2 separate regions of the Homo sapiens genome follow, and region 2 is linked to region 1. The links come from fine-mapping of genetic effects on gene expression. Tissue or cell type: B cells. Region 1 holds a variant in brackets; the other region holds the start of a gene. All regions are shown on one strand. Distances are from middle to middle.

Evidence for each region. PIP is the estimated chance that this variant, and not a neighbour inherited with it, causes the effect.
Region 2: it holds the start of PIK3CD, and the variant in region 1 is fine-mapped to the expression of PIK3CD in B cells (Schmiedel 2018, PIP 0.94).

Annotation. Positions count from the first base shown.
Region 1 is chr1:9,626,258-9,630,707 of GRCh38, reverse strand. LOC105376712 (a long non-coding RNA gene) reads left to right here and starts at 1,281. Exons shown (of 2, transcript XR_946951.2): 1 at 1,281-1,484; 2 at 2,025-2,261. It also overlaps a transcript of PIK3CD not described here. RefSeq lists enhancers at 43-102, 133-182, 2,746-3,210, 4,398-4,450 and silencers at 683-792, 3,318-3,657. The variant T/C (reference allele first, on the strand shown) is at 2,254.
Region 2 is chr1:9,649,920-9,654,138 of GRCh38, reverse strand. PIK3CD (phosphatidylinositol-4,5-bisphosphate 3-kinase catalytic subunit delta) reads right to left here and starts at 2,408. Exons shown (of 24, transcript NM_005026.5): 1 at 2,337-2,408. PIK3CD-AS1 (PIK3CD antisense RNA 1) reads left to right here. Exons shown (of 2, transcript NR_027045.1): 2 at 96-1,529. RefSeq lists enhancers at 166-215, 1,356-1,425 and a silencer at 1,606-2,495.

The DNA.
Region 1 (4,450 bases):
TCACTTTCTTTGCTAACTACTCAGTAGAATTCGGGCCCAGCACAGATGTTACCTGCCTTGGCCCCCTTGCCCGAAGGGGCCCTTCATCATACTCCTGGCTATATCATCCCCTCCCAGCTCTTGGTCTACTCAACCATGATTGCCTATTCGCTCAGCTGCTCCTGGGAGCAGGGACTCTACATGGATCTGGACAGGCTCCTGGGCTGCTCCCCTGTGTCTGGCACCCAGAGGGCATCACCAGTGAGTCTGTAGAAATGCTGAATGAAGGAATACATGAGTGATGTGGTCATGAAGGGACAAGGTGATGCTTTGCCCAGGGGCCAGGGGGCTGTAGCCGAGGAAGAGAAAGGACAAGTGTCCACATCCTAGCCAGTGCAGGAACAGCCCCTTCACACCCTTCAAGGAGGGGCCTGACACCGAGTGACCCTGCAGTCCATGATCCAAGGCCTGACGGCCTCCGGGGGGTAGGGAGGCTAGACTCACCTGTCAGAGTGGTCCCTCTGCCCCTGGTATCACCAGACAGACGTGGGTCCAGCCTGGATCAGTCCAATCCCGGAGGCATTCTCAAGCCTAGGGAAAAATGCTGTTTTCAGAGTGAGGACCGCACTGAGGACTCCTCTGCTCCCCCCGTGGGCCAGCCCCCAGTCTCCCTAGCATCCTCAGCTACTCTGAGCTGGAGAGTGCAGAGTGCAAAGCACACTCCTCTCCCAACCTCGTGGTGTCCTGGGCGCCTCTGACCCCCGGGCTTCCTTCCCAGGCAGGCCTCCGCCTCCGCCCCCACTCCCCCCTCACCCCATGAAAGAGTAATGGCGCAAAATTCGTTGGGGAGAAAAACAGGAAGTGGAGAGCGAGGGTGCAGAAGTGCTCCCCAGCCCGTGCACCGCAGCCTTACGGGGAAGTGCTCAGGGGCGGTCCCGGCCCGACTGCAGGGGTGGGGGAGCCTTAGGGCGAGCTGGGAGTCCGGCGAGTACCCTGTGGCGAGGGGCTTTGTTTTAGACCGAACTTCACACCTGCACCCTGCCTCTGACATCTTAGCTCACCTTCTCCCAGCAGCTCCCCAAGGTTGAGACCATGACCCCATTTTACAGACAGGCAAGTGCGCTCAGAGAAGTGAAGTGACCTGGCCAAGGTCACACAGCCTTTCCCACGGCAGGGTCGTGGCTCCTCGATTCTTTCTCAGGCTTTGATTTCTATTTGTGGTATGTTTTTGTTCTAGGCCTCTGAGCGTGGTGGGTGGGGGCGGGGGTGGGGGGGCAGGGAGTGCTGTTTCTGGCTTCTCAGCACATCCTCATTCTCGGCTGGTGGTAAGAAAGGGGAGAGGGTCAGCTGCTGAGGACCGTCCTCCCCTGGGGGTTCCTGGAATGTGTGAGCTGGGAGGACAGGTGCCCCGGCCTCTTTCTCGGAGAAGAGGAGAAGGAGCCTGGGGGGAAGGCACCCCAGTGACAACCGCAGAGGGAGGGCACCAACCCCCAACACAAACTCAGGTAGGTGTGGCCTTGAAGCCCCAGGACTCAGAGCTTCAAGTGAGTTCAGACTCACCCTTTCCTCCCGGGGCCGCAACTCACAGCAGCCCCAGTCCTTAGAGGCGTCAGTGGCCCGAGACCCCCAGGGGAAGAGGTGACCTCAGGTGGCCTCACTGGGGTGACAGTGGGGAGAGAACCCGCTGAAAATACTCCCCACCCAGGCCCGCCCCTCACTTGGGTCATGAAGCCCCCTCGCCCTGCCTGCCCCAGGGCAGACCACAGACGGCAAACGGGGGCTTCTGGGGACCTTCCCATGGAGTTCCCACCGCCCAACCTTTTCCTTCCGAGGGTCCTGGGGGATCTGAGTCCTCGGGATCACCCTTACTGCCCAGTGTCTCCCTAGTCTTGACCGCAGCTCGTCTGTCCTTCACCACCCACTCCTCCTTCACCACCCACTCCTCCACCCTGGCCACCAGCTCTTCCCCTCCAGCTGCCTCTGGAAATCCCCCCAACATTCCACAGAGCCCTCAAACTCAACACACCTCCAACCAATCTCACCAGGGCCACCAACTCTGGGCCACCTCCGTGTGAGGAAGGCAAAGAAGGCAGTCTGCCCGGTCACTGAGGCTGAAACCTCAGAGCTGAGCTGTGGCCTCCACTCACCCACCACTGGCCCATCCTCCCTCCACGGCAGGGGCGCCTTTCCCAGAAGGCTCTGGCGTTGCTTAGACCACAGCGGAGGCCGGTGCTCAACTTTTAGAATTGCTGTTGGAAATAAATAATTCATATA[T/C]GTAAAAATGCTTATAATCGTGCCTGACACAGAGTGAACCCCCATAAAATGTGAGTGTTTGAGCTATCCTTCTAGTATATTCTAGAATGGCATCTTTGGGCTTTGTGAGACTGGATGTTTCTGCGCTAAGAGTATTTTTCTTTCTTTCTTTTTGAGATGGAGTCTCACTCTGTCACCCAGGCTGGAGCGCAGTGGCACAATCTTGGCTCACTGCAACCTCCGCCTCCCAGATTCAAGCGATTTTCCTGCCTCAACCTCCCGAGTAGCTGGGGTTACAGGAATGCGCCACCACGCCCAGCTAATTTTTGTATTTTCGTAGAGACAGGGTTTCACCATGTTGGCCAGGCTGGTCTCAAACTGGTGACCTCAGGTGATCCACTGGCCTCAGCCTCCCAAAGTGCTGGGACTACAGGCGTCTCGCTCTGTCGCCCAGGCTGGATCGCAGTGACGCGATCTCAGCTCACTGCAGCCTCAACCCCCTGGCTCCTGCGGGAGGTGCCATCTGCCTCCATGGTTCCTCCATTGTTCTCAGATCAACAGTGGGGCTCTGCCACCCGCGGCCTCTGTTCCCTGTAGCCGTGGGCTGCGGGGCTGCGGAACTAGAAACAAGAGGCCCCCTGGCCTTTAGCATCGAAGGCCCCTCCTCTCTCTACTGCCTTTGGGCAGCAGTCATCCCTCAGCACCAACAGCACCCGGGGCCAGCAGGGAAGGTGGCCGCGATAAGGGAGGCCTGGCCGCCCTTCCCTTTGTGCAGGAGACTCAGCCCCTGGTCCTCAGCCACCCCAACATCACAGGGAACTAGAATCATAAGTTAATATCTGTAAAGTGCCCAGAACCATGCCAGACCTGGATGAGAACTCAGTACACATGTTATCATCATCATCATCACCACTGTCACCTAATTTAATCCTTACAGCCGCCCTGTGAGATCAGCGTCATGCTCCCACTGACGGGCGCGAAGTCTGAGGTGGAGAGAGGCGAGGCCCACGCCTTCGTGCAGGCAGCTGCGCAGGGATTCAAACCCCAGCCTGTTGGATGCTCGTGCTCTCAGCCTCGTGCACGGGTTTCCATCTCCGCGGGTGTGAAGCCAGCTGTGGAGGTGCACACCTCTGTGCTGCCGCCACCCCTGCAGGAGGCAAAGAGGCCGCCACGGAGCCCGGGTGCCCGGAGCCTTAGGTCGCCCAGCCGGCGTCTCCCCCGGGCATCCGCTCCCCGACCTCGCGGCCTCCGGGTTGGGCGCCAGGGAAGCGCGCGGCGCCACCTGGTGGTGATGCCTGGCCAAGGCCACAGCCGCCTGCAACCCTCAGCCCCTGGCTCAGCGGCTCCCCCTGCTGCCCGCCCGGCGGCGCCGCGTGGTTTCCGCCGCACTCTCGGGACTGGGAAAGCGGAATTCACTTTCTCTCCTGCCCGCTTCCTCCAGGGATGGAGAAATGAGCGTAAACCCTGGCGCTGCTGGGGTCCTGGGGCAGGTACTGAGTCAGCAAAGCTCATTTTGTTGAAACTGTGTTTTGTGTCCCTCCAAACCTCCCATTTCTTTTTTTTTTTTTTTTTGAGACGGAGTCTCTCTCCGTCGCCCAGGCTGGAGTGCAATGCTGCGATCTCGGCTCACTGCAACGTCCACCTCCTGGGTTCAAGAGATCCTCCTGCCTCAGCCTCCTGAGTAGCTGGGATTACAGGCGTGCGCCACCACACCCAGCTAATTGTATTTTTAGCAGAGACGGGGTTTCACCATGTTGGCCAGGCTGGTCTTGAACTCCTGACCTCAGGTGATCCGCCCACGCCTCGTCCTCCCAAAGTGCTGAGATTACAGGCGTGAGCCACCGCGCCTGGCCTCCTTTCTTAATTCCTGCATTGCAAGTGGCAGATTGTTCTAGAGCTGCTTGCCGCAGCCTTGGTACTGGCAGCTCAGCCTGGAGCTCACCCTCCCTTCCTCCCTGCCCAGCTCTGCGACCCTGTGCCCCGGACCCCCTCTCCAGCAGCCTTGGGGGCGTCCCCACCCAGGCACTTGCAGGCCCCTGCAAACGGAATCTGCCCCAACCCGACTCCCTGGCCACCCGGATCTGCCCCTGGCTCACTCTTCCTTTCTGCTTCAGCGAAAGCTTATCCCCTCTCTCCTCTGTGGTCAAAGCAGAAATCCCCAACAGGGTTCACTTCTCTCTCTTGCCCGCAGCCTCATGCAGGTGTTGCCAAGTCTTGC
Region 2 (4,219 bases), 24 kb before region 1:
GGGCTCAGAAGGAGGCTAGCTTAGTTGTCTCTGGAGCAGGCAACTGGGTTGTTGTATTATGTTTCTCAGAGATGGGCTCTTGCTCTGTCACCCAGGCTGGAGCGCAGTGGCACTGTAATAGCTTACTGCAACCTTGAACTCCTGGCTTCAAGTGATCCTCCCGTCTGGGCCTCCCAAAGCACTGGGATGACAGGTATGAGCTACCGCTCTCAGCCACAACTGGGTTTTAAGAGCACTCCTCCAGCCCACTCCAGTGTCTTCCATCATTCTGTGAAAGCACCAAAAGAGGACCAAGCCCAGGAAGCCGCCAGCAGGCCTCTCACCAGCCAAGATGGCTGGAATCCTAATATCAAGAAATGAAACTCCAGCAGGCCATGGAAATGCTAAGGGGTTGGCATTTCTGCTCTAGAGAGAGCCAAAGAGAAAGCTCTATTTATATCTCCTTGCGTTTGGTCGCAGCCTCATCAACCAAAAGAACCTTCCGCCCCACTCAACACATCAATCAAATTGGGGAGGGGGTGTGAACAGCAGCAGCGGGTGTTACAGAGGAGTCTCAAGGGTATCTTAGAGGGTGCCTCTCTGAACAGTCGTCCCCTCCAAATCCCCCCCAAGAGAATTACTAGGACATTCTCCTTCCCCCGCAAGCAACGGCACCCCCAGATGATTAAACGCGCTGGCGTCGGAAAGAGCTGGGATCCTGGAGAAACTACTTGTAAACTGTGTGGGTTGGTGAGTTATTTAACTTTTCTGAGCCTTCGTTTCCTTAACTGTAAAATGAAGACAACACCACTCAGCTCCTACAGTTGTCCAGCTGAAATCACCTAGGTAAGAACGACCAGTTCTTTGGGGAGTAATGTCCCGATGGTACCATTCAATTGTCAAGAACACCAAGGCACCGTCAGGCACCCGGGCGGTATCCCACTCTCCTGGAAGAGAGCAGGGGGTTAGCCCTTGGTTTCAAAGTCCCTAGGGAGCAGTAAACCTTCCCCTCCGAGAGCCCTGAGAGAGGAATAATTGCCCCTTCCCACTCCAACCCACGGCACACCCGCCCACATCCACGTGCGGCTGTGCCCAGCATCTCAGAGGTAGGACTTCTCAGGAATCGGCGGGAAGAAGCCCCCTTGATGGAGTCTGGTGGGGTTCAAGATCTGCAGGTCCCACCTTCCAGGGAACACCTGCACAAGTGAGACCTGCCCGATCAGCCCCGCGCTCCATCCGCAAACTGGGCAGATCCCAAGGGTGCCACGCGAGGACCCTGCACCTTGGCCGCTCCAGGGCGCCCCCCACCCGCGACCCCGGAAATCTCGCCCCTACCTGCTTCACCCTCGCCCCACCCACAGCGCACTTTTCGGGACCTCCCAGCGGCCCTTCCCCGGTTCTCTGGACCCCCGTCTCCCCGCCCTGCAACGCCCCCATCCTGGTGCCCACGAAAGGTCGTCCCAGTTCCCCTCTTCTCTACCTCAAAGGAGGAGGTGCAAATGAGGAAGCCTAAATAAAAACAGGAAACTCGATTTTTTTAAAAAGCCTCATTCAGGCTGAATTACGGGTAAGAGTATTTTTTTAAAAAGTCCGGAAATGCAAAGCTGGGGGCGGTTTTGCCGGCGTAACCCCGGCTCGGCCGCAGATCCGGAGCTGATCTCGCCTGCGCCGCTGCAGCAAACGCGGCGAGCAACGCGGGAGGCCCGGGACTGGGAGGCGGGGCGCGGGTCCACGAGCCGGGAGGAAGCCCCGAAAACTTCCACCCCGGCCCCTCTGCAGCCCCGCTCCCCACTTGCCCAGGCTGGGAAGGGCGCACAGGACCCGGGCGCCGGCGAACTGTGCGCAGCCCTCTCTCCGCGCCAGGGCACTCGGGCGACATCACCAGCGCGCTCTCTGTGGACCCCGCTGCCGTACAGAGGAGGCCCCTGGTCCTCTAGTCAGCGCTCGGAGCGGGCGCACGCGCTGAGCGCTTCCAGTATCCTCGCGCCTCAGCCGGCGCACCGGAGGCCGCACCGCCGCTGTGAGCGCAGCTGAAACCCCGCTGCCGGGCCAGGCGGGCAAGGCGCGCAGTGCAGGCGCCGGGGAGCTGCGCACGCCCCTCTCGGCGGGCCCACGGGGGACGGCCCCGGGCCTCTAGGGCAGCCCCCGCCCAGGTCCCAGCAGCCCGGCCCCCGGGGCTCCCAGGACCCGGCTCGCTAGACTCGGGGAGGCGCCCAGGGCCAGGGCGCACGGGCTGTGTGTGCCGGAGAGACGCCCGCCAGCCAGCCCCGCGCCCCCGAGCGCAGCCGCAGCTCCCAAAGCCCCTGGCCGCGGTCCTCTTCCCACCTCCCCTGACGCAGCCAGCGGCGATCGCTTACCGTCCCGGCGCAGCTGGCAGGGCTGGGCGGCTCTGCTCGCGGCCGCTCGGAGCGACTGCGCTGGGCGCGAGTGAGCCTCGAGGGAGGGAGGCGGGGCGCGCCGGGGCGCCCCGCCTGCCGCCAACCCGCACACTCCACTTCCCACTTTGTTTCCTTTTCACTTGCAACAGGAAAAACAACAGGTCCTCCAGGGCCTCGCCTTCCCCCGCCGCCCACACTCCCCAGTTCGCCTACCGCTAGAGGGGCATCATCCCAGGTGCCTCTGGAAGCTGCACCTTGCTTGCCCTTCTACAAAACAAGTTTTCTTTTTATGCAAAGGAAAACAACGAAATAAAGGTCCTAGGCGCCTTTAAGCGCTCCGCCTTCACGCAGGAAAGAATTTCAGCAGGAGCGGGAGAAAGGCTGAGAGCAGGAGAAGAAGAGGGGGTAACCTGCAGCTCTAGGCACCCAGGGACCCCAAGCGCCATTGCGAGGTGACCAGTGTTGGGGCTCAGGACACACACCCAAAATGTGACTATGGGAGACCAGCGTGTGCCACCCCAAAATATACTTCTTCGCCATATTTTGAAGGGATTATTCTTAGAAACTGCAGGCACAGGAGTAGATCTGAAAAGCTGTCCTTTTGTAAAATGATTTCTATCTATAAAGAAAATCTCCAGGCCTGGCACTGTGGCTCACTCCTGCAATCCCAGCAATTTGGGAGGCCGAGGCGGGAGGATCACTTGAGCCCAGGAATTCAAGCCAGCCTGGGCAACATAGGGAAACCCCCGTCTCTACAAAAAAATTAAAAATTAGCCAGTCGTGGTGGTGCACACCTTGTAGTCCCAGCTACTCGGGAGGCTGAGGTGGGAGGATGGCTTGAGCCAGGGAAATGGAGGCTGCAGTGATCCATGATGGCACCACTGCACTCCAGCCTGGGAAACAAAGTGAGACCCTGTCTCAAAAACAGAAAAGAAAAGGAAAATCTCCATTGGTAAAGTATTAGTATCAGGCGGAGGGCTGCTCAGAGCTAACTTTTCTTACCTGAGAAATTTTATCCGCATAAGAAGACAAGCTTCATTCACCTTACCCTCTCTCCCCTCACTCTCCCTTAACTTGTGTACCACCTCCCCAGGATCCCAAGCCTCTATTCCTTTTTTTCTTTTCTTTTCTTTCTTTTTCTTTTTTCTTTTCTTTTTTTTGAGACAGTCTTGCTCTGTTGTCCAGGCTGGAATGCAGTGGTGCCATCTCGGCTCACTGCAATCTCTGCATCCTGGGTTCAAGCAATTCTCCTACCTCAGCCTCCCAAGTAGCTGGGATTACAGGCACACGCCACGACACCCAGCTGATTTTCATGTTTTTTTGTTTGTTTTTTGTTGTTTTGTTTCTTTGTTTTGTTTATTTTGAGGAATCTTGTTCTGTTGCCCAGGCTGGAGTGCAGTGGCGTGATCTTGGCTCACCACAGCCTCAGCCTCCTGGGTTCAAGCAATTCTCCTGCCTCAGCCTCCTGAGTAGCTGGGACTATAGGTGCACACCACCGTGCCTGGCTAATTTTTGTATTTTTAGTAGAGGTGGGGTTTCGCCATGTTCACCAGGCTGGTCTTGAACTCCTGACCTCATGATCCACCCGCCTCAGGCTCCCAAAGTGCTGGGATTACAGGCGTGAACCACCACACCTGACCCAAGCCCTATTCCTTTCTGAAGGAATGTTTCCTGTCCCTTGTAGGATGTTATATGAGCTTTATTCATCTGAGCCTTCATCCAGTCTTGTATTTTGTGGGATTCCCATGCATAGGTCTTAGTTACACATGGTTTTTCTCTTGTTAATCTGCCTTATGTAAATTTAATGTGGAGCCCAGCCAAGGAATTTAGAGGGTAGAGGGAGGCCACTCTCTCCTCCCCTA